Linked DNA regions of Homo sapiens. The protein of the gene in region 2 interacts with the protein of the main gene of each other region in a pairwise test. Each region holds a gene or a part of one and is shown on either strand. Other genes may lie near its edges.

Region 1 (6,864 bases), on a different chromosome or scaffold from region 2:
CAACTTGATGGGAACCTAAGCACTGAATAGGGCAGTTAGATTTCCCACAGTTCCCTCCAACCCTGGAGTCTAAGATGCTTTGAGTTTGGAAAGGGCAGGGGGATAGGCAGGTCTGGGTGGTGCCAAACATGACTCTTTTTTTTTTTTTTTTTTTTTTTGGAGACAGAGTTTCGCGCTTGTTGCCCAGACTGGAGTGCAATGGTGCGATCTCTACTCACTGCAACCTCTGCCTCCCTGGTTCAAGCGATTCTCCTGCCTCAGCCTCCCAAGTAGCTGGGATTACAGGCATGCGTCGCCACGCCCTGCTAATTTTGTATTTTTAGTAGAGATGGGGTTTCTCCATATTGGTCAGGCTGATCTTGAATTTACAACCTCAGGTGATCCGCCCCCCTCCGTCTCCCAAAGTGCTGGGATTACAGGCATGAGCCACCACTCCCAGCCCAAACAAGACTCTTAATGAGATGTGGTTCCTGCCCTAAGGGAGCTCACAGTCCATCCAAGAGTCATTTTGGTCTGAGAAGCGCTGTAAGAGGTTGCCGAGGAATTTATGGGAGGGACGCTGCGGATCAGGGTCCCCTCTTGGGGAAGGCGAGTATTTGATCAGAGCTGTGATGGGCAGGAATTATTCAGGAAGGGAAGGGCAGGCAAGGGCATTTCAGGCAGGGGCTGCCATGCAGGCAAGTGCTCGGTGGCTGTGAGAAACACTTGCTACATTTGTCAGACTACAAGGATCTGGGCACTGCTGGAATGGAGCTGGGATTGTTGGGGTATAAGTGGTGAGAGGCAGGCCGGAGGGGCAGCAGGAGCCAGGTCATGTGTGATCTTGGGTGCTAAGCTGGGGAGTTAAAATTTGATCCGGAGGGCAACAGAGAGTCAGGGAAGCCTCAGGCAGGAGGGAGGTGGGCAGAACTGTCCATGCTGGTTGCAGAGTGGAGATGAATGGCTTGGCGTGGCAGAAGGCAGAAGTGAGGACGCAGTCACTGGGATCAGGGCAAGAGAGGAAGGGTGTCAGTGTGGGGGACAAGGCAGGATTGGATGGATGAGACAGAAATGTTGGAATGTAAGCTCCCATGGCAGGGGCTTTATTTTGTCTGCTGCCGAATTCCAGCACCTGAAACAGCGCTGGCACATGGTAAGACATCAGGTGGGAGGAGGCAGCGTGCTGCTCCAAGACTGTGTGAAGGAAGCCCTTGGATGGAGGAGTCACTGGGGAGAAAGGGAGCATAGAGCAACAGGGAGGGGTCAGGGCTAAAGCTGAGCACAAGGATGTTTATTACCACCTTGCAATAAACAACGCTGGACAAGAAAGAAATGAGCCAAATGTCCAACTACAAGGGATGCTGATTGATTTTCAGATCCTCTATGCTGTGCCAGCCATTGAATGAGTAGATGATGAGATGGTGACTGCAAGTTGGGATGAACAGATGTTCCTGATAATTTGTTAGGTGACAAAGGCAAGTTACAGACTGGCACGTGTCATATGGGGGGCACGCAGACCTGGATCTCGGAGAGGCCCGGGTGGGTGGGGGTAGGGATAGGAGATGTTGCAGAACAGGTGGCAGCTGGAGCCAAGGACAGGGATGACACCACCGGGAAATTGCCAAACCTGGGACTGCAGCCGTGCTTGGAGACAGGTGCAGGGGGAGCCTAAGGGGAGGCCTGTCACCCGGGGCACCCCAGCCGAGTCAGCGGAGCCTCTCGGCCCTTGGGGTCATCTCCTGTCATCTAACCCAGCAGAAGTACTCTGATTCTAAATTCTGGGACTCTCAGGTCATTTAAATTCCACTGAGTACCCCAGTACCCTGCCCTCTCCTGGAGTCATACAGTGTTGGCACACGCTGAGCAGGGTCCAATGGCCTCATAGTGCCCTCCTGGTTACCCCTGGCCTGCCACTCTCCAAAGTATTCTCCCTCTGGCCTGGATCATTTTCCCTTTGGGAACCCAGGTGTCCTGCCCCCTCTACTTGGGAAAGTCTGGGAGTGAAAATAGCTCAGGGAGGGAGGGGCCCTGAGTGCCCAACGGGCTGGGCCTGGGTAGCAGCTGCCCCTGTGCCCCTCTTTGGCGCCCCCGAGGTGCTGCCTCAGCACTAAGTGTCCATCTGGCTGGAGAGTCAGGTTACAGCGTAAGGGGACCCAGGTCTCCCCTCCTCCCCGACCTATGGCCTTTTCAGCAGACTCAGGGCCCCATGCCTGGGGTATCTTGGGAAAGAATGGGGGTAGGGAAAAGGGTAAAGATCCTCAGGTTGCGGGGGTCCTGATGTCTGACAGTCTGTGATGTGGGGCCTGTCTGTGCTCTTTCTGGGCTTCAGTTTCTTCAATTGTTAAATGAGATACAGCGACTATGGACCCCACCCTGGAGACGAGGTGGGGTGGGGTCTGAGAGGACCCTTCTCACTACCCCCACACTCCCAAGTCCACTAGTTGCCTGACTGCAAGCCTTCAGGGTGGGGTCTGGGAATATTTAACTAGAAGAAGATTCTTCTTTCTGAACCCCCCCTAACTTGGATCTCCTGGGGTTTGCCCAGCCTGTTTTCAGCAGCAGAAGTGGGGCAGTGGGCCCAGGGGAATGAACCCTGGTGGGGGTGGGGAGCCCAGAAACTCTCTTGTCATTTTAAACCCCTCTTGAGGGCTCCCAGCCCTCTCCTCCAGCCCTGGGGACAGCAGGCAGCTGATGGGCAGAGCCTGGGCTGGGGATTAGCACTCTAGGTTAAAGACAAGCTCTGCCCCTGCACTGCTGAGATGCCCAGGACAAACAGCCCGGCCTCTCAGGCCTCGGTTTTGCTGTCAGGAAATGGGCGAGCACTCACTTTCCGCTGCTGCTTCTCCCAGGCCGGGTCCAGCAGCAGGTCGCGGTCCCAGTCCTCCTCCTGTTCCATGTACTCGCCGCCCCCGCCGCCGCCCGCAAAGCGCCCCTCCCCGGCCCCCAGACCCTCGGGCTGCATAACCATCATCATCTCGATCGGGCTCCTGGCTTCGCTCCGCTCGGCACGCTCTCGGACACCCGGGCCCCATTAAGTAGGGCCCAGCCCAGCCCCAGATCGAATTCGCACTAAATATGGGGGAGGAGGGAGGGGCCGGATGGGGGTGAAGGAGCTCGGGTTGGACCTGGCAAGGGGTTGTCCTGAAGCCGGGAACTGCGGGACTCGGGGGCGCCGGGGTGGATCTCGCGGCGGAGATCCTGGGTTTGCATTCCTGCTCCGCTGCTGGGGCGCTGTGTGACCTTGAGAAATCCACGGGACCTCTCTGAGTCTGTTTACTCCTCTCCACAATAGAAAGGCCGATAATAATAGTGGCCGCGGGCCGCTCTAGAGGCTGCCCTCTGGAGCTCCTCGTGAGCCTCTTCCAGCACCTCGCTGGTGGGACACAGAGCCCTATCCCCATTTCACAGTCAGGAACACAGAGGCGCCGAGCTGTTTTGCATGTTTTCTGGGGTGATGGAGACACCCGGGCATGGGGAACGGCTCTGAGCCAGCTGGATGGGCTGCGGCAGGGCTATTAATATCGGGGCGGCTGTGGGGAGTAGGGGAGAATGTGCTGAGCCGGGAAACCCCGACACCACCCCGGCTGCAACTCAATCCCCCGGGCACTCCTGGCCCCCGCGCCAGCGGGCGGGGCTCCGACGGGATGGGAGGAGCCTCCAGGGTGGGCGGGTCAATCACTCCGCGGCGTTATCCGGGCTCCAGCGCCGCGGGATTCCGAGCGCCTCCACTGCTGGTCCGTTGGCCAGATCAACTCGCCGCGTGGGCCGGCCGTTCCCTGAGAGTCTGAGCGCTCGCCGCACCCCCTTCCGAGCTTCTATTGGCCGTAGCAGACGTCCGTCTGCCGCTATCTCCGCCCCAATACGGAAGCGGCCTAGTCCTCCGGCTCCGACAGCTGGGTGTCCAGGCCATGGGGCAGCCCTGGGCGGCTGGGAGCACGGACGGGGCGCCCGCGCAGCTGCCTCTCGTGCTCACCGCGCTGTGGGCCGCGGCCGTGGGCCTGGAGCTGGCTTACGTGCTGGTGCTCGGTCCCGGGCCGCCGCCGCTGGGACCCCTGGCCCGGGCCTTGCAGCTGGCGCTGGCCGCCTTCCAGCTGCTCAACCTGCTGGGCAACGTGGGGCTCTTCCTGCGCTCGGATCCCAGCATCCGTGGCGTGATGCTGGCCGGCCGCGGTCTGGGCCAGGGCTGGGCGTGAGTGGGGTGCGGGATCGGGCGGGGAGAAGTGGGAGCCTTGGACAGGGGGGAGGGGCCCCAAGACCTGAGATGTTAGAACCGGGTTACATTAGGATCCAGGTTGTTAGAATCAGACATTTTTTTAGAACCTGGGATGGAAGAGCTAGAATTGAGTGTTATTTATTTACTCGCAAATACTTATTGGGAGCCTACTAGGTGCAAGGTTTTGTTACAGGGACGAAGGGTACAATAGAACAAATTCCTGATTTGAGGGGGGTGCAGATGAGAAACTAGAGGAATAATAAGCAAATCATATAGAATGCTAGAAGGTGATAGTAGTTTGGAAACAAGAAGTAGAGCAGGGTAAAGGGGTTGCAAGTTTCAATATTAAATAGGTGGTTAGGCCGGGTGCGTTGGCTCACATCTGTAATCCCAGCACTTTGGGAGGCCGAGGCCGGCGGATCACTTAAGGTCAGAAGTTTACCAGCCTAGCCAACGTGGTGAAACCCCGTCTCTACTAAAAATATAAAAAAATTAGTCGGGCATGGCGGCACGTGCCTGTAATCTCAGCTACTGGGGAGGCTGAGGCAAGAGAATTGTTTGAACCTGGGAGGCGGAGGTTGCAGTGAGCCGAGATCGAGCCACTGCACTCCAGCCTGGGTGACAGAGCAAGACTCCCTCCGTCTCAAATAAATAAATACATAAATAAACAGGTGGTAAATTCTCATCACAAAAATATGAGTGTTTGAGGTAATGGCTATCCTAATTAGCTTGATTTATTCCAAGCTGTACTGATAAATCATAACATCACTTGGTATCCCATAAGTATATACAACTGGAATTTGTCAATTTATAATTAGAAAAAAAAATTACACCAGGTACAGGCTCTACACACACATTTTATGCCAGGCAGAGGCTTTTGCTGAGACTGAGGCTGTAGTGTGCTATGATCACACCTGTGAACAACCACTACACTCCAGCCTGGGTAATGTAGCGAGACTCTGTCCCTAAAAATTTTTTTTAATTAATTTTTAAAATAATATACATAAATGTGTGGTCAAGGTAGACCTCATAGAGAAGGAGGCATTTGAGCAAAAAACTTGGAGGGCGTGGGGGGCGGTTAGCCATGTGGGAATCTGAGGGAAAGGTGTTCCAGGCAGAGGTAACAAGTGGTGCAAAGGCTCTGAGGCAGTTGTGTACCCAGCATGTATGTTCCCAGAACAGCAAGAAGGCCAGTGTGGCTGGAGTGCAGTAAGAGAGGGGAAGAGATGTCACAGATAGAAGGATGTTGTAGGACACTGAAGGCTTTGCTTTTTACTAGAAATAAATTGGAGAACCACAGGAGGGTTTTAAGCAGAGGAGGGTCAGTTTGGTTGCTGGGGTGAGACCGTACGAGGTGGGGCAAAGGTGGAATCGGAGACCAGTCAAGAGGCTATTGCAGTAATCCAGAGAGTTCCTAGTGACCTGGACAAAGGGGTGACCGTGGAGGAAGGGAGGGATTTGCTGCTGGATGTCAGTGGCTTGAGAGAGGTCTCAGGACTGGGGATGTTAGGGCTGGAAGAGACCTCAGACCTGTAGTGCTAGAACTAGAAGGGCCTGGGACATCTTGTTTAGCCTGCATTTACTTGTAAAGAAATTGAGGCTTAGCCAGGGCAAATGGCTGTTGCCACTTCCGCAGGATGGGCTCTGGGGCAGCCCTGTGCACAATATGGGGCATCTGAGCTGCTGGGGGAACTGACGCTGTGGTTCCTTCCTGCAGTTACTGCTACCAATGCCAAAGCCAGGTGCCGCCACGCAGCGGACACTGCTCTGCCTGCCGCGTCTGCATCCTGCGTCGGGACCACCACTGCCGCCTGCTGGGCCGCTGCGTGGGCTTCGGCAACTACCGGCCCTTCCTGTGCCTGCTGCTTCATGCCGCCGGCGTCCTGCTCCACGTCTCTGTGCTGCTGGGCCCTGCACTGTCGGCCCTGCTGCGAGCCCACACGCCCCTCCACATGGCTGCCCTCCTCCTGCTTCCCTGGCTCATGTTGCTCACAGGTGGGGAGCCTGGGAGGCCTCTGCACAGAGGCAGGGGCCCTGGTATTGGGCTGGGGAGTACAGCCCATTCTGGTGGGAGACGGGCTTTCTGGCCTGGGGGACCCAGCCCCAGTGTCAGTGATGGCCAGTAAGGGCAGCTTGGTATTCACCCGGGGGTGCAGTATGGAAACTGGTGTGTTGAGACAAGTGCAGCGTTCTGGCTGGAGAATTGGGAGATTCCTGGAGTTGTTGAGAGAGGAGAAAGACTCGTGGGAGTCTCTGCATGGCGGGATGTGGAAGTGCATTCTAGGAGCATTTCTAAGTGAGAGAAGCAATAGGAACAAAGGCTTGGAGAGTGGGCAGGGAATTGTGAGAATTAAGGCCAGATTGGTAGGGGAGGCCTGGCTGGTGGGGTCCTGAGAACTGGTGTGAGGAGATGGCTCCTATTTGACTGGACAGTGGGGAGCCAGTGAAAGTGACAGGCAGGAGAAGGCCCAGTTATGGGAAGCTGGGGAGGGCAGACTTGGATCAGCAGGCTGCCTGAGATGCCATGTTCTAGACGACACATATGTTCCTCTTCCCCCATCTACAGATAGAAGCCTCGCTGGTCCTTTTTACTCTTTGTTCTCTACCCCCAGAATGCTTTGGCCTTTCTCGCCCCCATTCCTTCCTCCTGACCTTTCCATGGTTCCCTCTGT
Region 2 (7,408 bases):
TCATATAAGAAAGAATCTATCAAATAGTCTTCTGACTGCACTTATTTATCAAGCCATGAAATTAAAATAAAAATATATGATTTCAGGACATTCATAAGTATTTATGACTTAAGATTAGTAGAAATGGTGAACGTCATTTTAAAGTGTTAGTATCGGCAAGTCTGTGTGGTCTGCAGGATCCTCAATTCTTGCCTTCTCAGAAGAAAGAATTCGACTGAGGGGCATAAGGCAGAGTGAGAAACCGAGGCAAGTTTTAGAGCAGGAGTGAAAGTGTATTAAAAAGTTTTAGAGCAGGAACAAAAGGAAGTAAAGTACACTTGGAAGAGGGCCAAGTGGGCGACTTGCGAGATCAAGTGCACTGTTTGACCTTTGACTTCGGGTTTTATGCGTTGGCATACTTCCCGGGTGTTGTGTGCCTTCTACCCTGATTCTTCTCTTGGGGTGGGCTGTTTGCATGTGCCATGGTCTGCCAGCACTTGAGAGGGGCCACATGTGCAGTGTTTACTGGAGTTGTATGCATGCTCACTTGAGGCGTTCTTCCCTTACCAGCCAAGTGTTCCTAGAAGAAGGTTAGATGACAGTTAAACTGTGCCATTTTGCCTTAGTCCACATGCTTGAGCCCACTCACCTAAGTCCTGAGATGTCATCAGGAAGCTGCTGATCACCAGCTTCGGTGTTTCTGTCTATTGGGAGACCACTTTTTCTGGTGCCAGCTGTGACCAATTATTATTGTAGACGGACAGTTTAACAACTGCCTGACCATCACCTGACGGTCTCCTGGCATGCCTGGTGGGGAAGGCCCTCTTCTGCCCTGCTCATGTCTGACTAGCTACCTACTGTAACAAAAATAAGGAAAACACGTAGGAGATAAAAGTGTATCAAGGGAAAAGGGCATAACTCAATAATTGTTCTAAATTATCCTAAAGTTCTAAAGACCAGCCCCAAAATGCCTCAGAGCTAAAACCCCTCTGAAACCCCCTCCTTAGCAAAAATTCTTAACTTTTTACACCTAGAAATATTTCTTAAGAATTAAGATGTATTTCTTAATACATCTCCAAATTTATAATCAATCAAAGAAATACCAACCGCTGTTTACAGATATTCCCTAAATAAGAGACATGAATGAAATCCATCTGAAGTGGCTACTGCTGTCTGTGGTATATACCCTGGGGTTCATTGTCATGCACTGAGAAAGAATTCGGCACACAGACACAGGTGAGTGGGTTAAGGAGCAGAAAGTGTAATAGAAGAAAGGAGAGAGGAGGGGAGAGCAGCTCCTCACGAGCAAGAGACACGTGGAAAAGGGAGAAGGTAGAGGACCGCAGCAGATTTTATACGCAGGCTGGAGAAGGCGGTGTCTGATTTACAGAGGGCTCACAGGTTGGTTCACTCAGGTATGATGTCTACATAGTGTGCTGGGAAGGCTAGTTGCCCCACCCTAATCTTCTTATGCAAATGGACTTTCCAGTTGATTGGCACCATCTTGTCTGCTCGTTTACAGTACACGTGGCTAACAGAGACGGGAAGATGGGACCGCCATATTTAACATCTTTAGTCCTTAGTTCCTGCCCGCATTCACCTGTGCAAGCTCCCAGCTTGCAGGCTGCTTGCTCTCTTAGAAAATTATTTGGGGCTGATTTTCATTAAAAAGAAAAGCCTTACCTAGGACTCCCATACCCTTACTATCTGCCTAAGTAATTGCTTCTTAACTCCTATATCACATTCAGTACACTGGAAGTACAAATGTAAAATAGAATAATTTTAACACTTATCTCTTGATACTCTTTAAGATGTCCTTTTATAGACAAAATAAATTTTTTAAAATTTATGTTCCCATCTCTGCATTTTAAATATATTGTTTATCTGTGGTAGGGTTTTTGTGGAGAAAGCAGGCAGGGGAGTGAAACTGAAAAAGAACTAGGTCTCTTAATAGTTAGACCCACAACAGCTAAGGTCTTAAATCTAAAACAAGTACTGGCCCAAGGGTGGAGACCAAAAACTCCCAACCATCTTAGTTCTGGTGTCAGCCTGTCTAAGGCAAGGCCAGATCTACACATGGGCCAAGAAGATAGAATGGTTTATAAATTGCCGCAATCAATGACAGAGAAAAACAAGATTACCCAAAACAAATGACAGCCCGTCAAGATAATTCAGTTTGTTAATTTTACTAGCTAATAAGTCTCCATTACAGCTTTATATGTGGGAGACAAACCAGTCTCATCTGTATGACATAATCAATCAATTATAAAAGTCACTGTGAGATTTGGAGCACTGATTTACCCTGAAAGATCTTCTCCCCCAGGCCTTGCCTTCACCTGAAATCATAAAATAGATATATAAGTGAGATTTCAGACAAGCTAAACACAATGTAGTTTGAGAGACCAGGCTCTCAGGAGCTCAGAGGAGCCACAATTTGCAGCTCTGAAGCACAGCTCGCCTGATTTTCAGATGTGGCTGCAGTCTCTTAGTTACACCCATGCAGATCACTTTATCAGAACTCTACGGAATAAATGAATGAATTCAGTTAAGCCAATTGCTCTTGTCTCTGGTGTTTATCAAATCCCAGGCTGTGTTAATGGGATCCATCTCATTCAACACGTGCTCTTATGCCATTCACAAAGTGCTATTGCCCACATCACCCCGGCAGCTGTTTCAAGTAGGGGAGTTTTCAAAGTATTTGAAGGAGACAAATAGGTTACTTCCAACTCTTGACTTTCTTATTTAGTCTAATATCTTGTAAGAAAGATACTTTGTGAAATCATTCTACTGGTAAAAGTATATATCATCAAAATTAGCAGGCATACCCATAGCAGCTTCACAGATTAAACAGAATGCCCTTTACACAACTATAGTCAACATGGGTTGTTCTTTTAATGTTCTAAGGCTGTGTCCACCGAAATCCTGCATCTTGCATTTGTATTCCTGGTCTCTCAGGGATTATTTGGTTCAGTTGTTCTTTGTTTATTTGTAACACTATCACTAGATCCAGCAGGCATTGTGGAGCACGTATTACACATACTACAGATATTACACATACTCATATCTTCTGTATATGGGATATATGACTCAGAAGTAATAGCAAGTCAGATTACAACCTCTTAGGGAAAATCAACAGCAAATACAAGCTCACAGGCCGTGTGTACGGTTGACTTTTACATGACTTTGGATGCAAATTGACACAAACACCTCTCCATATTACAGTCATTTTTAGAGGGCAGACAGCATTCTTGAGGGGACCTGAATTGCTAGGTAATTAAAATGTATGTATGTAGAATAAAATAATCTTGGAAATAAGAGGTTTCCGTAAGCCTTCTCTCTAAAATAAGGTCACCTTCTTTGAGGTAGAGATTCTGTGCCTTGTGGAAGGAAAGCCACTTCATAAAGCAGCACAAGAATAGCCAGTTATTGAAAGGGCCATTATAAAATTACTAGCCAATGGTATTCGCTACTCTTACAATTTGTCAATCCATTCATCCCTAGGAAAAAGACAGCATAAAAGAGAGTTCTGTTCATAGGTAGAAGCAATTTATGGGAAGACTTTGGAAATGTAGAACCATTGTTTTTGATGACCATAAGAAAAAGAGGGGGTGCAAGAGGGGAGCACTATGAGGGGCCCCTGGAATAACAGCACAAAGCAAGTTAGATTCAAAGAGTGGAGTAGACCTTTGTCTAAGGGGCTTATCCTGACAAATTCAACTTTGAAGGCAGCCTGGGTCATTCTTGGAAAAGGCCATTCTTTGTCTCCAGTGACCCCAGAGACATCATATAAGGATGGGGTGATGATGCAGCAGCCGGGACCAGGTCCCAGTTGCAGTGGACAGGACAGAAGGGACTGAATGGGGCAGCAGGCTGGGGCGCCACCAGGTGCAAGCAAAGCTCAGGGATAGGGCCCCTCCCCTCCGTCCCGGCCGCTCGCTGCGCCCCCTCTGGGCGGTGCAGGCTCCGGCTCCCGCGCCGGGGCTGCCTCTCACGGATTTCAGCCCGGTGGGAGGCAGTGCCCAGAGCCTCTTTTTCCTTATCTCACAAAACCCTAAAAGCCGAACCCCTACAACCAGCAGACAAAACTGCTCCCCGAGCTTCGGCTCTTTCCTGCTTTCCAGGCGTTTCTCCGGGAATAACTTACTTAGTGGCACTGGGAGAAAGGTTGGGACTGGGGGGTCGGGGACCGAAACCCAAAAGATTCCCCCAGCATGGAGCACCCACGTTTCCAGTGGCGGGGGATGCACGTTGGTTTGTGCCCAGCCCGCCCCCACCAAGCCCGGTCCTCGACGCGCTGACACGCTAGCTGGCATGGGCGGCGGGGTGGGCGTCTCTGGGTCTGTGGCTCTGTCCTGCTCGCCCCCGCCCCTTCCTCCCGGACCGCGCCGGCGCTGTGCGGCTTTTTCCCCAGCACGCGGCGCTGCACTCGCTTTTATCTCGGAGCCGCGTCGCTTCGTGCGCTGCCAGCGGGGCTCAGCCAGTCGGCTGGAATTGAGTAGCATTCATTGAATCTGCGGATTTCATGACGTCTCTCTGCGTGGTCCACCACTTTTCTCCTAACCGGGGATTTTTTTTTTCTTCTGCCACTCTTATCTTTCCCCACTTCATTCCACCCAGTCTCCCTCCCCCGTCCCTGCCCAAACGCGCGCCCCTCCGCCCCTCCCTTGGCCCCAGCGCCCAGCCCTGCTCTCCGCGCTCGGCCAGAGGGAGCCAGTCCGGAGACGGCCGCACCTGGCTGGAGAGGCTGGGCGGGCGGAGGGGTGGAGACCCGCGGACGCCGGGAAGCCGGACCTGGAGCCGGAGCAGCCGCGAGCAGAATGGAGTCTCCTAACAGCCTCTCGGTGCTGATGTGAAATTTGACCATCTGATTCCAGTTTTTTTCTTTTCCTTTTCTTTTTTGCATTTCCTTCCCTCGCCATCCGTCGTGTAGTGAATTGTTCAGTCTTGCTCCGTTTCAAGAGAGGAGATCATGATTGAGTGAAGCCACCCCGTCCGCAGCCAGGTAAGCGGTGCGCTGAGCTGCTCGCAGGCGAGGAGCTGGCGTCCACCTGGGCGAGGCGTTCCGTGCTCTCGGGTCCCCGCGTCCCCTTCCCCAGCTCCGCCGTCGCCGCAGGCATCTCCACTCTCATGAGAAACATTGTGCCCAAGTCAGCCGAAAGGCGAGGGAGAAGCCGGTTACATAACAGAAGGGGAATCTGTTTCATACGGTTTTCATTAGCGACTGAAACTCGCACGGGGGGCGGGGGAAGGAGGGGTCTGCATCCCTGGGCTCGCAGAAACCCAGTCAGTTATTGCAGACATCATTTCAACATCCGCTGGCAAAGACTTAAATGCACTGATTAACTGACAGGTGCGGCTTGTGATGTAGTCATTTACAGTTGGGAAAAGCCTATTGTCTTTGTGGAAGGCAGTCTTCTTGTTCTGCTTTGCATGGAGAGGAGAGGAGACAACACGAAAGGGAGGAAAAGTGAGGGTTGGGGAGAAACATGCGGAGAATGGGAAACAGAATACTGTAACTCCTAACTGTTCTCTATCCTTAAAACCGAAGATGTGCTAGCATGACTAAAAACAGTGAATAGGAAGATCTTCCTAGGAGTAAACTGAATTATTTTGTAATTGGAAGGGAAGAAAAAACACTTTAGATAAAATGAGATGTGTGTGGCATTTAGAGGACTGGGTGGCTGTGGATATTTGCTTCCCTGTGGATATATTTTCATTTTCATCAAAACATTAAGCTTGGATTAGTTTTTAAGTGAAATAACATCAGTATTCCCAAAACCCAATAAAAGCCCAGTGGATCCACAGGTACATCTGTTGTACTAGGTGCAATATGGAGAGATTGTCAGGGGGAAAATATATCTTAATAGAAACAGCCACAGAGGGTGAGGTTAGTGGAGAAACAAAATACCAGAATTTTCCAAAGAATTCCGCCTCCAACCCCCAAAAAAAGGAAGAGAAAAAAAAAAAAACCCCACAACTCCAGTGTTTGGGAGTTGGAGATGTATTATATGTTTAGAGTGTTTCCCAACTGCTGTTATCCAAAGTCTGTCGGTCCCGGGGAGCCCTACGGTACAGGGAGCAATGCCACATCCTGCTAGCCCTGTTCCCTGCCTGCCTTTCTTTTGCTGAAAAAAAGAAACGGAAAAGGGTGATGCCCAGGAACTGCTTAGGGAGAAAAAAGGGCTTGCTACAGTCAGGGCTGAGCTAACTGAGCTTCGCCCATTTTGCCTGGAGAAAGAAAAAGAGCTCGAGTCTCCATGGCGACCCAGGTGGGAGGGGAGACCGCAGCTCCAGTTATAGGGGAAAAAAATTGGACAAAACTTTCCCGGCTCCAGGCAAAGGAATACGCCAGCCGCGTGCCCTGTGGCGGGTCCCAGGGCATCGGTTGTGCCCAACTCCCTGACGGCGACGCTCGAGAGGGCGCCCAGAGCTGGCCGGGTGCCCCTGAAACCTCCCGAAAGTTGCCTGGGGGCCGCCGAGGTGGTGGTTCCTCAGCGGGTTCCGGATTCAGCACCAAGGCCAGAGCCCAGGCGCCGAGGGTGAAGCCTCACCTGTCTGCAGCCCCCAGCAAGCAGTACCCACTCCTTTGGTCGCTGGAGGTCAATCACTTTCTATAAATAAATGAGTCTTTGGCTCGTGCAGAATCTGGATATCAAATTACCCACGGAATTACGTGAGGCAAAGAAGCTTGCAAATCATCCATTTTATGCATGGCGGTGCATCAGAGGACCTATTCAGAATCAAGAACACTGGGACAGGGAAAGACCTGAGCTGAACTGAGAGTGGAGACAGGATTCTGTCCTCAGGGGGAGAAAAAGGACGCGCGCGCGCACAGACACACACACACACACACACACACACACACACACACACACACCCCGATCCGCCTCTGACGAGGGTTGCTAGTTTCAGCTGAGTCCCTTTGGCTTTCAAAAGCATGCATCCCTTGCCCTCTCACGCTCTTCTCTTTAACTTTTTGTTGGGCATAGATGGCAGAAGGGAGCTGTGGAAGCACCCTGGTCAGCGAGAGGCCAGCCAACCAAGTTTGTTATTTCTTTCTTTCTTTTTTAGACGGAGTCTCGCTGTGTCACCCAGGCTAGAGTGCAGTGGCTCGATCTCGGCTCACTGCAACCTCTGCGTCCCGGTTTCAAGCGATTCTCCTACCTCAGCCTCCTGAGTAGCTGGGATTACAGGCGCACACCACAACACCTGGCTAATTTTTGTATTTTTAGTAGAGACGGGGTTTCACCATGTTGGTCAGGCTGGTCTCGAACTCATGACGTTGTGATCCGCCTGCCTCAGCCTCCCAGAGTGCTGGGATTACAGGCGTGAGCCACCGTATCCGGCCCAGCCAAATTCTTTCTAAGGGTCCTAGGACTGAAGAGGGTGGAGATATAGTTTCCTCTCGGTCTAGAACTGGAAGGAATCA
Region 3 (7,386 bases), on a different chromosome or scaffold from region 2:
GAGACTCAGACGGGCAGTGCGGTAGGGGGCTCCCTGGTCGTCCCCCAAGTACCTCCTTGGTGTAGAACTCCATGAAGCCCACCACATAGCTGTCTTCCTGAAGAGCGATGATGAGGTCCACAACCGAGGTGAAGGCGAAGACAGCGAAGACTGCAGTGAGTGGGCGGGCCGGGTCAGGTGTGGGAGGGGACACGTGTGGGTGGGGCTAGGGCTTAGTGTGGGCGGGGCTTGAAGTTAAGGTCAGGGATGAGATTATTCCAGGCAAGGACTCCAGGCCCAGTCCCTGCCCCAACCCCAAAGGTTGCATGACCACAGTCCTGCCTCATTCTGCATGTCTGATGGAGGAGACACAGCCTGGCTCTCAGAAGTCCCTGGTTTGATTCAGAGGCCCAGTGCCTGCCTTTGGGAGTCCCCAGTCTCATGGGAGAGGCACCGTCCCTGCCCTCAGGAGATCTCAAAGTGATGAGGCAGTATACTCTTTTTCAGGAGCTTCTAATCTGATGCAGGAGATGCAGTCCCTGTTCTTAGGAGCCCCAGCTCTGAAGGGGGAGGCTCTTTGAGGTTCCCCAGTTTAATGGGAGTGTTCAAATCTCTTTGAGGTCTCCAGTCTGATGGGAGCTCTTAAAGGGCCCCCAGTCTGATGGAGGAGGCCCCTTAATGGCCCCCAAGTCTGAGGGTGGAGGCCCTTGCCTGGACAGTCTTCTTCCCCACAGCTTCCCACTGACTCACCAGCATAGAGTGGGTCATAGGAGACCTCGCCATGGGACAAGCTGTAGACCGCCACGAAAAGCAGACCCAGGATTAGGGCGCTCATCAATGCCACCCACAGGGGGCTGTGGAGAGGGAAGCCAAGTCAGGGAGGCCAGGCCCAGTGCTGAGGCATCGCCCCACTCTCCCTGGTGGGGGAAGGGGCAGACTCCTGGAAGCCCCAGGGGAAGAGACTAAAGTGTCTGTTCATCCATCAATGCTGTTCCCTGAAACTGCTCTCACCCTGTGCCAGGCCCTTGCTCAGGCTGTTTCTTCCTTCTGGAAACCGCTTCCAGAAGTCTTTTCCACTTGGCAAACTCCTACTCATCCTTCATGGCCCATCCACATTGTTCTTCCTCCATGAAGCGCTCCCTGACTCCCCAGAAAGGATCACTGTTTAACTCGGGCTAGCTACAGAGGGGATATTCATCAGCCTGTTTCTTTTTCTCTTTTCTTTTCTCTTTCTTTCTTTTTTTCTTTTTCTTTCTTTCTCTCTCTCTCTCTCTTTCTTTTTGAGACAGAGCACTGACACCCAGGCTGGAGTGCAGTGGTGCAATCTTGGCTCACTGCAACCTCTGCCTTCTGGGTTCAGGCGATTATCCTGCCTCAGCCTCCCAAGTAGCTGGGATTACAGGTGCCCACCACCACACCCGGCTAATTTTTGTATTTTTAGTAGAGACGGGGTTTCACCATGTTGGCCAGGCTGGTCTCGAACTCCTGACCTCAGGTGATTTGCCCACCTCGGCCTCCCAAAGTGCTAGGATTACAGGCATGAGCCACCACGCCTGGCCTGCCCCTTCTGACTTTACCATTTATCCCATCATTTGTTATGTGTTTGACTCAGTCTGTTCAGTCATTCGACAACGTCAAGCCCCTCTGTGGCCAGGCCCAGCTCCCAAGCCACAGGGTCTCGAGTGCTCAGTTCTGTAGACTTCATTGTCTGACGCTCCCAGCTCCTCCCAGCTAAAGTCCAAATGCCTCTATTAACTCCACCCTACCCCTGCCCTGATCTGCACCCACAACCTGATAAGACAGGTCAACCAGTTGCATAGATAACAGAAGCCAGGTCTCTGGGCAGCCCTCAACCCAGGTGGGCAAATCCAGGCCCAGAGAGGATGGGAGTACTGTCCAGTTGTCCAGGGTCACACTCAAGACTCTGTCCATCACTCTCCAGGCCCCTATTTTCTCATGATCCCCTCAGAACCCAAGATTTCCATCCTGACCCCATCTAACAATGACATTATAGTACTCAGATGAGACCAAGACAAATCTTTGTACACAGTTTATAATCCTTAACCGTAACTATGAGATGAGATCTAGGATCGTGCCCATTACACTGATGAGGGAACTGAGGCTCCCAGAGGAACTTGGCTCACCCAGGATCCCAGGAGATGGAGATGGGTATTCCCACCCAGGGAGCCAGGCTCATGGTTAAGACTCTCTCCACCCCATGGCTTGGGTTGAGCTGGGTTTAGAAGTACGAGGGGCTTGCAGATGCCCACTATCCGGTGGCTGGACCCACAGGGCTAGGATCTAGGGTTAGGAGACAGGGACCAGGAAAGGGAACCAGTAGGGGGAACTGAGTCTAGGGACATGGTTAGCCAGCCCTGAACAAGAGGAAAGTCACAGGCCTGAGACAGGCAATGGAGTAGGGTGTGTGTGTGTGTGTGTGTGTGTGTGTGTGTGTGTGAGCAGGAGTCAGGTACCCGGGGCCTTATCTGGGACAATACTTTTACCCTTGGTGACTTTGGAACCTAGGCAGGGCGCATCCCTGGGAAAACCCCAGAAACCCTCCAAAGCTCTGGCTTGTGGGGACTCATCATTCCTTCTTCCCAGGCCACAAACATCCCAGGAGCGGCCGCATCCCAGCCTCCAGCCCGGCGGGAAGGGGACTTCCGGTTAGAGGGGGGTGTTCTTCTGGCCCACCCCAATCCTGCCGGGTCGGAGCTGAGCTGGGGCGCAGGGCTCGCAGAAGCCAGGTCCGCGGACCGCGCATCCTCCCTCCAGCCCACCTCCAGTCCTCCCCGCCCCCGCCCGCCCCCACTGTCCCCAAGGCCGCCCTGGCCCCTCTCCGCACGCACTGCGAGAGCGCCGAGACGTGGTTGAGCGCGTAGGACACCGGGAGGGCGCTCAGCGACAGCGCCGCGATCTTGCCGGCCAGCGGCGGGATGTCCATAGCGGCGGCTGCTGGACCCCGGCTCAGCCCCGACGCGTTCTCCAGGGCGCTCGGCTCCTCGTTGGCGGCGAGTCCGGGCCGAGGCTGCCAGGGACCCGCCCCGCACAAAGGTCGACCCCGCTGCGCCCTGGGCAGGCCGCCGTGACCGCCCTGCGTGTTCCCAGGGAGCCTCCAAGGCCCCTCCCCGGCCCTCCCCCTGGCAGCTGCCCCGCCCCTTCGCCCCTCACCATCGACACCCTCGTCTCCAATGGCCGTCCCGCTACTCAGCCTCAGTTTCCCTCACTGTCAAAGGCTGGGACACAACACCTCGGGATGCTTCTGCTCTTAGGCCAAGGGGTGCGCCCTGGAGGTCCTGGCGTGCCCCCTCTTTCCCCTGCCTCCACAACTTCGTTCTAAGGAAATTTTCTCCTGGACTCTGCGCTTCTAAACCTCTGCATTCCCCAGAGTTTCCCATCCCCACCCAAAGATCAAGTCGGCATTCCCTGTGCGCACGGATGGAGCAACCTCCAGCTCTTGGGTGCAAAATGCCTTTCAGTGGGCTTAGATTTGAGTTTTCATAAGGTGGCCACAAATGTAAACGTGTTTCCAGGCAGGTGTGAAGTTTTTTTGTTTGTTTTTTGAGAGGTCTCACTCTGTGGCCCAGACTGGAGTGCAGTGGCCCTCCTCCTTGAACTCCCAGCCTCAAGAGATCCTCCTACCTCAGCCTCCCAAGTAGTTGGGACTACAGGTATGCACCACCACGCGCAGCTAGTTATTTTTTGTAAAGACAGAGGTCTCACTTTTTTGCCCAGACTGGTTTCAAACTCCTGGGCTCAACAGATCCTCCCACATCAGCCTCCCGAGGAGCTGGGATTACAGGCGTGAGCCACTGCGAGGGGTCTTTAAGTGTGAGGCTTTGACTCCGGGGCTGTCCCTTTGCAGGCTAGTCCCGGGTTTAGGGTTCTTCATTTCGGGGAGAGGGTAGAAGGGGTCCTAGCGGGTGGGGGCTGAAGTTAGAATATCGGGATGGAGCCAGTTTGGTGAAGAGTTTGGGAACGGTGTTCCTGGCAGGGAGGAAAGTGGCTCAGGCTTGGAACTGAGCAGTGGAAAGGAGGTCGGTTCTGCTGGGGTGTGATGAGAAGCGAGACAGCTGTGAGAGGCTGTGGGAGGTTTTGAACAGCTGGGAGGGGGCCACAGTATTGGGGGGGAGAATAAGGAGACCATCTGTCTTTGTCACCCCCTCCAACCAGACTCTGGCCCATGTGGAGTACTTGTGGATGCTGCAGACAGCAAGGTGAACCATGCCCACCTGACGCCTGCCCTGCGGGACCCCAGTCTGCAGCTGGCACAAATTCTAACCACTGCCCCTACCTCAGGCCCCATTCTGCACGCAGCCCCTTAGCTTGATGCCAACTGGGTCACAGGTCTTCCTGAACTGGGCCACAAGAGGGTCTTCTGGCCGCAGGTCTGACTCAGCCTCCTTCCCCAGGTGTCCACTGCCCATGGGTGAAGTTCAGGTTCCCCTGGACTTTCCCCAACTCTAGCAGGGTCAACACCCCCCAGGCCTGCTTTCTGTCTGTAAAATGAGCCTTCTTGTAAGCGGGCCCCAGCATCCCCTCCTCCAGGCAGCCCTGCCTGCCACCCCCACCCCACCTTCTCCACACAAGGCCAGGGTGCCTGTGCCCAGCTCAGCCTAGGGGCTTGGCCTTGTCCCGTGTACAGGATGCACCTGCACACGCACACAGCACTTGGAGGCCTCGTCCCCTGGCAAGGGGTAAAGTCCATGCCCTGAGCCTGGTGAGCCTCCAGGTTGCTGAGAACTGAGAAGTGACTTGGATGGCTGAATGCCTGGGACCCAGTGCCAGGATTCCCTGAACCACTGGCTGCAGAGAACTACCCCGCTGTGCTCAGGGTCCTGGCCCACTGCCTTCTGGGCAGCCCTCATTCATGGGCACCCAGGCCAAGCCCACCAATGTTACTCTTTGCTCTGCCTCAGCCACAGCGTCAGGAAAGAACAAAGGGTGGTATATCACCCCAGCCTTGGCTCTGCCACTGCATCTGGCACCTCCCTGGTCTCAGACCCCACTGAGACACTCTGCAGACCGCCCCACCACGGCTCCCTGGTTCCTCTCAGTAGCAGCCTCAGACCTCATCCCCAGCAGCCTGGCTGACTGGAGTAGATCTTGTCCACCTGGTCCCCACACTTGGCACCTAGTGTTTGCTGAATGGCTGTGTGAACACAAGCTGGCCCAGGAGCCCGACTCCATGCCAAGCATGTGAATAGGGAGCCCCTGGTGCCTGCAGGGGCTGGGCAGCACCCACTGGGTGTGTGTGGAGGGGGTGGGGGCAGATGGAAATGCAAATTCCCAGGGCCCTGCCCAACCAGCTGACTCGGCAGCTGCAGCTTAACAAGATCCCCAGGGTGACTTAGGCACAAATGTGGGGCTCTGGCCCTGGGGCAGATGTGGGGGTCTTGGCACACACTGTGGCCTGGGCTACCCTCCTGCCTCAAAACCTCCGGCTCTGAGGCCCTTCCTTCTAGGAGCTGCCTGACATGTTGGCATGGCACATCCATGCATCCATGCGGCTGTCCCCTAACGACACAAGCCCCAGGGACTCGTGTGCCTACCACACTGGTGGGACCTGAAGGGCCACAGCCAACACCTGTGTGCTGGGCCGTGCCAGCACCACCTGCCAGGAGAGCACATGGGTGTGCCCAGAAGCCACCTGCCCCCACAGGTCTGAGGGAAGGTGGGGCCCTGCCTGGAGACCCCTCCCCAACCTCCCTCTGCAGCACAGTGCTAGGCTCGGAGGTTCCTGACATTCCTTTAGCCCAGGTGTGGCCAAGTCTCCAGCTTTATTATTATTATTATTATTTGAGACAGAGTCTTGCTCTCTTGCCCAGGCTGGAGTGCAAAGGCGCAATCTTGGCTCACTGCAACCGCTTCCCAGGTTCAAGCCATTCTCCTGCCTCTGCCTCCCGAGTAGCTGAGACGACAGGTGTGCACCACCATGCCCAGCTAATTTTATATTTTTAGTAGAGACAGGATTTCACCATGTTGGCCAGGCTGGTCTTAAACTCCTGACCTCCAGTGATCCGCCCGCCTTGGCCTCTCAAAGTGCTGGGATGACAGGGGTGAGACACTGCACCTGGCCTTCCAGCTTTACTATGCTGAAAACAACTTTCTTCCTCCCCTCCAGTGCAACCCAGGCTGAGCGGGGATGGAGACTCCACAGGCCAATAAGGAGAGCCCCGAGACAGCATCTTGCATCCCGCTGCTAACAGGAGGGGCTTCCTGCAACAGGACCAGGCATCTGTGGTGGATGAGCACTGGGACTTTATTACACGGCACGGCACTCGTGACAACGGAAGGGGTGGGCAGAAATGCAGGCCGGAACATTCCACAGTCCAGGGACGGTTGGTCATTCAGAAAGTATGTATTTCCAGAACACTCAGTAGTAAGGCCGTCTGGGATTGTTCTGTGGAAGGCAAAACAGATAACAGGAGGAGGGGATTAGCACTAAAGACAGCAGTTCCTCCTGTCTGGAACCTTCCGGAGGCAGCTGAGCCCGCACCCTTGAGGTGGCAGGGCAGGCTTGGGGGACGGGTGGGGGCTTGAATGCAGGTGGGTGGTAGGGGGCTCGCTGGTGAGACCCAGCCTGGCTGGACTGAGGAAGGAAGGGAGCCTTCTGTTCCTACCACCACCCTCTCCTGTCGACTGAGCAAAGGCAGCCCAGGAGGACATGCGTACCAGGGGGTTGGGCCGGAAGCGGTAGGCCAGCATCATCCTCTTGCGGAACGCCTCATACTCGTCGTCCTCCTTGGAGAGCTCCGCCGGCCGGTCAATGCCGAAGCCAGCGCCGTCCACTGTGGTGGTGCCCCTACAGGGAGAAGAGGATGTGAGCAGGGACCTGGGGCCAGAACTCTGGCCGGGGGGCCGGGCACAGCTGGGCTCTCAACAGCACCTCCCGCGGGTGCAGGGCTGGGCTGGGACATATCTGCACAGAGAGAAGCTTGAACCTGAATGGTCAAGGAGGGGAGACCCCCGGGGCGGGCGGGGGGGGGGGGCCTAGGCCCCAGGGTCCCACACAGGAAGGAGGAGCCCACAGTGCAAGTTGTCGCAGCTCTTGGGATGGCAGGATGGTTACTCAAGGACAGCCTTGAAGGGGGCACTCGGGGCCAGGGTCACACCTGGGAGAGCTCCTGCCCATCTCTGGGAGTGGTTTCGCACTCATGGGGAATTCAAATAAGGCCCTTCACAAGGCAGACAAGGCCTGACCCATCTGTACCCTCACCCACCCCATCTGGCCTGGAGATACTCATGAGGGGACGGAAGGAGGCCCTGGGACTGGGGAGGACCCAGCCCGTATGGCCTCCTGCACTGCAGGCCTGTGCCTGACAAGGGGTGTGCAGTGGGGTGCTGTGATCATTTTGCCACAAGGGAAAAGCGATGACATAAAGGGGTGGGAATGGGGAGGCGGCA
Region 4 (7,022 bases), on a different chromosome or scaffold from region 2:
TGTGAGTGTGGAGTGTGGGGTGTGAGTATGGGGTGTGGGTGTAGGGTGTGGGTGGGGTGTTGGCATGGGGTGTGGGTTTTGAGTGTGTGGTGTGGGGTGTGGGTGTGGGTGTGGGTGTGGGTTCGCAGTGTGGGGTGTGGGTGTGGTGTTGGTGTTGGTGTTGGTGTGGGTGGGGTGTTGGTGTGGAGTGTGGGTGTGGGTTTGAGGTGTGGGGTGTTGGTGTGGGTGTGGATGTGGGGTGTGGGTTCTCAGTGTGGGGTTTGGGGTGTGGGTGTGGGTGTGGGGGCGGTGTGAGGTGTGGGTCTGGGTGGTGGGTGGGGGACACTTACTTGGCCTGGTTGCTGAGGAGGGTCACGTTCACATTGCCGAGGACCAGGTTCAAGTAGAGCCTGGAAGGAAACACCTGTGAGGGGCATGATCCTTAGCAGGTGGGTGCGAATCAACAACATTCAAACTCAACACACTTAATGAGCACATCCCAAGCACTGATGTTAGAAGATAGGGGGCCTAAGCTCAGCGGGCAAATGGGCCCCCACATCGAGTGAGAATGACAACTAACCAAAGGACATTAACCTGTGACAGGACAGTGTGAGGAGTCGATTTCTCCTCCATGCTACCCTAGAGACCGTATTTCTAAGCCTGCCTTGCAGCCAGATGTGAGCAGGTGACTAAGCATAGCCAATGAGGTGGAGGCAAAGGTACAACCTCTAGGTCAATTTTTAAAGAATTTTCTTTATTTTTCATTATTATTATTATTATCATTGTTATTATTTTTAGAGACAGGGTCTCACTCTGTTGCCCAGGCTAGAGTGCAATGGTATGATCATAGCTCACTGCAGTGTTTTTTGTTTTTTTTTTTTTTTGAGACAGAGTCTCGGTCTGTCACCCAGACTGGACTGCAGTGGCACGATCAGGACTCGCTATAACCTCCACCTCCTGGGTTCAAGCAATTCTGCTGCCTCAGCCTCCCAAGTAGCTGGGATTACAGGCACGTGCCACCAGGCCAGCTAATTTTTGTATTTTTAGTAGGTTTAGGGGTTTCACCATGTTGGCCAGGCTGGTCTTGAACTCCTAACCTTAAGTGATCCACCTGCCTCCGTCTCCCAAAGTGCTGGGATTACAGGCATGAGCCACTGTGCCCAGCGTCACTGCAGTCTTGAACCTCTAGGCTCAAGTAGTCCTCCCACCTCAGTCGCCAAAGTAGCTGGGATTATGGGTACACACCAGCACACCAATTTTGTTAAAGTTTTGTAGAGATGTGGTCTCACAATGTTGTCCAGGCTGGTCTTGAATTCCTGGGCTCAAGTGATCCTCCCACCTCGGCCTCCCGAAGTGCTGGGATGACAGGCACAAGCCACCGCGCCCGGCCTTGAGTTGGGTTTTCTATCGTTTGCAATCCAAAGATTCCCAACTGAGGTTAAGAGGCACAGAGGCCTAGGGACAGAGGGGCAGGAAGGCAGACACGCATGACACTGTAAGAGGGTCACGAATGCTAGGCTGCTGCTCATTCTGCAGAAAATGATCATCACTTAACTCATGGGGTCTATTCGAACACAGTCAAAAAGGAGAAGCTCGGAGGAATGGGTTAAAATATAACAGGGCTAGCCAGCTCCCTCCCACCCGCTACAGGCCTGAAAGGAGCCCCTCCTCCTAATGCACGGCTCTGACTCAGCGCGAGGCTGATCCGGAAAACAGGGTCAGGGTGAACTGACTGTGCTCAGCAGCGTTAAGTCAGGTCATGATGATATGAGGCTGTAAGCAGCTCTCTCTCTCCAGAACAAGGTGGCAATGACATCACTTAAGGGAGGGAACGGGGACTTCTCTGAAGGGGGAAAATACAAAGAACGTGGGCTTTGGAGTCAGAATGTCTGCTGTTCACATCCTGGTGTGGCCAAACATTCGCTGATGTCTCTGAATCTTGTAAAAATGGGCATCTCTTGGTCTGACGCACAGATTGTTGAGGATAAACCAGGTGACATCACAGGAGGTCCCGGCACAGCTCTGAGCGTGCAGGAGGCACGCAATGCATGTTTGTTCTCCTGGGAGAGGACAGTTTCCCTCTTAACCCCAGGTGTCAGCAGGCATGCAGTGAGTGCTGGTTCCTTGCAACGGACCTCCCAGGAATGCTGCTGTCACACGGTGTGGCTAAGGTCCCCTCCTGGGCTCATGGAGGAATGTGTAAGGAAGGCTCCTTATCTCTCCTGCCCTTGTTTCCCTCTTTCCCCTTCAATCTGAGCACCAGCAGGAAGGCGAGAGTTATATGGACCAGCTGTGCTAGGCCTGGGCATGGGCCTGTGCTAGGGGTGGGGAGGTTGCCAGCTCCTACCCGTTCTTCTTGGGCAGGTAGGCCTCCATGTCGAAGAAGACGTCCTGCCGCTCCTTGATGTTCGCTGCCATCTGCTGAACGAGCTCCGCCTCCTCCCGACTGGCATGGCGTTTGCACCTGCGGACAGAGATGCAGGCACAGGGGAAGGGGCGTCACTCAGAGGGAGGAGGGCTATGGACTCCCCGGGCCCCAGCCTCCCACCTTCTACCCCAGTGCCTCCTACCTTCTACCCCAGCCTCCCACCTTCTACCCCAGCCTCCCACCTTCTACCCCAGTGCCTCCCACCTTCTACCCCAGCCTCCCACCTTCTACCCCAGCCTCCCACCTTCTACCCCAGCCTCCCACCTTCTACCCCAGTGCCTCCCACCTTCTACCCCAGCCTCCCACCTTCTACCCCAGTGCCTCCCACCTTCTACCCCAGCCTCCCACCTTCTACCCCAGTGCCTCCCACCTTCTACCCCAGCCTCCCACCTTCTACCCCAGTGCCTCCCACCTTCTACCCCAGCCTCCCACCTTCTACCCCAGTGCCTCCCACCTTCTACCCCAGCCTCCCACCTTCTACCCCAGTGCCTCCCACCTTCTACCCCAGCCTCCCGCCTTCTACCCCAGCCTCCCGCCTTCTACCCCAGCCTCCCGCCTTCTACCCCAGCCTCCCGCCTTCTACCCCAGCCTCCCGCCTTCTACCCCAGCCTCCCGCCTTCTACCCCAGCCTCCCGCCTTCTACCCCAGCCTCCCGCCTTCTACCCCAGCCTCCCGCCTTCTACCCCAGCCTCCCGCCTTCTACCCCAGCCTCCCGCCTTCTACCCCAGCCTCCCGCCTTCTACCCCAGCCTCCCGCCTTCTACCCCAGCCTCCCGCCTTCTACCCCAGTGCCTCCCGCCTTCTACCCCAGCCTCCCGCCTTCTACCCCAGCCTCCCGCCTTCTACCCCAGCCTCCCGCCTTCTACCCCAGCCTCCCGCCTTCTACCCCAGCCTCCCGCCTTCTACCCCAGCCTCCCGCCTTCTACCCCAGCCTCCCGCCTTCTACCCCAGCCTCCCGCCTTCTACCCCAGCCTCCCGCCTTCTACCCCAGCCTCCCGCCTTCTACCCCAGCCTCCCGCCTTTTACCCCAGCCTCCCGCCTTCTACCCCAGTGCCTCCCGCCTTCTACCCCAGCCTCCCGCCTTCTACCCCAGCCTCCCACCTTCTACCCCAGTGCCTCTCGCAACCGCAGTTCCCCATCTCAACTCTCGGGGTTGGAGGAGTGATGCTGCCTCCCAGGTAGTCTTGTGACTTTCAGAAAGTCCTTAAACCTCTCTGCCTTATTTTCCATACCTGAAAAGCCGGGATAACCTCAAGCCTACCTCACAGACAATAGCCTGGTGAGGATTAAATGAGTAAGTACAGCATAGAGCATCTAGAATAATACTTGATAGTATGAGCTCAAGGGATAATTACTGACAATACTATTTTTCTTCTCATTTTTCTTTTCTTTTCTTTTTTTTTTTGAGACAGAGTCTTGCTCTGTCGCCCAGGCTGGAGTGCAGTGGCGCCATCTCGGCTCGCTGCAAGCTCCGCCTCCTGGGTTCACGCCATTCTCCTGCCTCAGCCTCCCAAGTAGCTGGGATTACAGGTGCCTGCCACCACGCCCAGCTAATTTTTTTTTTGTATTTTTAGAAGAGATGGGGTTTCACCATGTTAGCCAGGATGGTCTCGATCTCCTGACCTCATGATCTGCCTGCCTCGGCCTCCCAAAGTGTTGGGATTACCGGCGTGAGCCACCACGCCCGGCCTTCTTCTCATTTTTCTAAAGAAATAGCTAGCAGGCATGATGTTATAGTCCCAGCACATACGCCTATGATCCCAGCACTTTGGGAGGCCAGGGCAGGAGGATCACTTGAGGCCATGAGTTTGAGACCAGCCTGACTAACATAGCAAGACCCCGTCTCTATAAAAAATTAATTAAAGAAAACAACCAAGGCCGGGTGCAGTGGCTCAAGCCTGTAATCCCAATACGTTGGGAGGCTGAGGTGGGCCGATCACCTGAGGTTGGGAGTTCAAGACCAGCATGACCAATATGGAGAAACCCCGTCTCTACTAAAAATACAAAATTAGCTGGGCATGGTGGTGCATGCCTGTAATCCCAGCTACTCGGGAGGCTGAGGCAGGAGAATCGCTTGAACCCGGGAGGCAGAGGTTGCAGTGAGCCAAGATCGCACCATTGCACTCCAGCCTGGGCAACAAGAGCGAAACTCTGTCTCAAAAAAAAAAAAAAGTGGGGGGGCGGTTTAAGAAAACAACCAGGGGCTGGGTGTGGTGGCTCATGCCTGTAATCCCAGCACTTTGGGAAACTGAAGTGGGCAGATCACCTGAAGTCAGGAGTTCGAGACCAGCCTGGCCAAAATGGCAAAACCCTGTCTCTACTGAAAATATAAAAATCAGCTGGGTGTGGTGGCAGGCCCCTATAATCCCAGCTACTTGGGAGGCTGAGGCAGGAGAATCACTTGAACCCGGGAGGCAGAGGTTCAGTGAGCCAAGATAGCACCACTGCATTCCAGCCTGGGTGACAGAGCAAAACTCCATCTCAAAAACAACAACAACAATAACAAAAAACAACAACCAAGCATGGTGGTACATGCATGTAGTCCTAGTATTCATGAGGCTAAGGTGGGAGGATCGCTTGAGCCCAGGAGATCAAGGCTGTGGTGAGCCGTGATTGCGCCACTGCACTCCAGCCTGGGTGACAGAGCAAGACACTATCTCAAAAAAAGTAAGGCCAGGCATGGTGGCTCACACCTGTAATCTCAGCACTTTGGGAGGCCGAGGCAGGATGATCACTTAAGGTCAGGAATTTGAGACCAGCCTGGCCAACATGGTGAAACCCTGTCTCTAGTAAAAGTACAAAAATTAGCTGGGCGTGGTGGCGGGCACCTGTAATCCCAGCTACTCGGGAGGCTGAGACAGGAAGAATTGCTTGAACCCGGGAGGCAGAGGTTGCAGTGAGCCGAGATTGCACCACTGCACCCCAGCCTGGGCAACAGAGCGAGACTTCATCTCTGAATGAATGAATGAATGAATGAAAATAATTTTAAAAAATAGAAATAAAGGAATAACCTACAGATGACCAAGAGACAGACAAAAAGGCACCTGAAAGCATAAGCAGTCGACCAATCATGGTCTGTTATTCTTTGGTAACACGGAACTCTCAAAACCAGAAAACAAGTCAGCAGACACATCTCAGAATGACAGGGGTCCTTGGTCTAAGACCCTAACTCACGGGTCAACCTTCTAACCCAGCACTTCTCAACTGAGGACAGCTGGCAATGCCTGGAGAGATCTTGGTGGACACACCTGGGGCAGGAGTGCTACTGGCATCAGTGGGCAGAGGCCAGGGATGCTACTCACTATCCCACAGTGCACTGCACGGCCCCCACAAAGACCCATCAATAGTGCTGGGGTTCGCCATGTGCCCATCTGTGAAGCAATCACTGAGAATCTGAAGAAACTCTAGACTCTGAGCCCTGCCATTACCAAGATGTGTTTTTCCAAAGCCACATCTGGTGACGTGTTTGCACAGGGCCATCCACACTCTCTACCCCTTAGTTGCGGGCCTCCATTTCCAAAATGGCCAGCCACACTGAGAGCTATAATCAGGACCTTCCTCCAAAATTGTCCACAAGGAAAGAGTTGACCAGGAGTCCCAGATTCTAAAATGGAGGCCCAGCTAAGTGACCTGGGACAAGTCACTTGGAGCCTCAGTTTCCCTGCCTGACAATGGGGTCACGGCATCCACTGGGCCCCTTCACATACCAGGCAGGAGGGGACTTCCCAGACCTGGAGACCATGAGTGTCAGGAAATGAACACGATCCAGGCCTTGGGAACTGAACTAAGCTATGAGCTCAAGCACATCTCCACCAGGGATGGCAGCCTAGTGGCCACTACACCAGCAACCCCAGTGGGGAGGGCACCCCACACCCACAAAAGGACGCTGCCTGCTTACTTGTCCGGCAGGGCACCTTCCTATAACAGCACCCAACTTTCACCCGGGAAACTACTTATCTTCTTCTCCCATCACCCATGTGGCCATCCCTCCACCGCCCAGGGCCACAGACTTAGCACACGGCATGGCGCTGCCCAAGCAGCTTCTCAGTGATTGGTTCACAAATGGGCATTCAACCAATCCCAGCCAATGAGGACTGAACCCAGAATGTCGGCTGAAGTACTGGGAACGAGAAACTCTCGGCCAGGCACAGTGGCTCATGCCTGTAATCACAGCTACTCAGGAGGCTGAGGCAGGAGAATCGCTTGAACCCAGGAGACAGAGGTTGCAGTGAGCCGAAATCATGCCATGGCACTCCAGCCTGGGCAACAGAGTGAAAGACTCCATTTCAAGAAAAAAAAAAAAAAAAAAAGAGAGACACTCTCCTTCAGCCAGGGTGGCACAGCCGGCAGGAAGCAAGGCTGGAGAATATAAGCCTGGCACTGCTGGTGAAGGGGACAGTCACCCTGAGAGTGACACCAATCCAGAGGAAGGCAGAATTTAGAGGGAAAAATACATGCCCCAAAACACCCTTTGACTCCTGGATCCAGTGATGCCTGAAGCAACTCCCAGTCCTGTCTTTTTCCACTGAGATTTCCATTCTCTGCTTCAGCCTGTTTTGAGTTGGACTTCTGTCCCTCAGAACCAGGGCAGCCCCCGGGCTACAGCTGCACCTACC

What was found.
Region 1: the proteins of KCNJ6 (region 2) and ZDHHC24 interact in binary tests that used the Homo sapiens proteins (3 or more experiments, as listed by UniProt).
Region 3: the proteins of KCNJ6 (region 2) and TM6SF2 interact in binary tests that used the Homo sapiens proteins (3 or more experiments, as listed by UniProt).
Region 4: the proteins of KCNJ6 (region 2) and TMEM120B interact in binary tests that used the Homo sapiens proteins (3 or more experiments, as listed by UniProt).

Annotation. Positions count from the first base shown.
Region 1 is NC_000011.10:66,543,027-66,549,890, reverse strand, and holds the start of ZDHHC24 (probable palmitoyltransferase ZDHHC24), read left to right. Parts: upstream 1-3,842; 5' UTR 3,843-3,887; coding exon 3,888-4,168; intron 4,169-5,909; coding exon 5,910-6,187; intron 6,188-6,758; coding exon of another isoform or gene 6,759-6,864. Other genes in the region: ACTN3 (alpha-actinin-3), read right to left, coding at 3,105-3,380. UniProt on the Homo sapiens protein: Probable palmitoyltransferase that could catalyze the addition of palmitate onto various protein substrates.
Region 2 is NC_000021.9:37,913,457-37,920,864, reverse strand, and holds the start of KCNJ6 (G protein-activated inward rectifier potassium channel 2), read left to right. Parts: upstream 1-4,407; 5' UTR 4,408-4,981; intron 4,982-7,408. UniProt on the Homo sapiens protein: Inward rectifier potassium channels are characterized by a greater tendency to allow potassium to flow into the cell rather than out of it.
Region 3 is NC_000019.10:19,270,293-19,277,678, forward strand, and holds the start of TM6SF2 (transmembrane 6 superfamily member 2), read right to left. Parts: upstream 3,010-7,386; 5' UTR 2,924-3,009; coding exon 2,829-2,923; intron 834-2,828; coding exon 730-833; intron 151-729; coding exon 53-150; intron 1-52. Other genes in the region: SUGP1 (SURP and G-patch domain-containing protein 1), read right to left, coding at 6,356-6,382, 6,655-6,784. UniProt on the Homo sapiens protein: Regulator of liver fat metabolism influencing triglyceride secretion and hepatic lipid droplet content. May function as sterol isomerase.
Region 4 is NC_000012.12:121,743,747-121,750,768, reverse strand, and holds part of TMEM120B (transmembrane protein 120B), read right to left. Parts: coding exon 7,022-7,022; intron 2,444-7,021; coding exon 2,327-2,443; intron 390-2,326; coding exon 330-389; intron 1-329. UniProt on the Homo sapiens protein: Necessary for efficient adipogenesis. Does not show ion channel activity.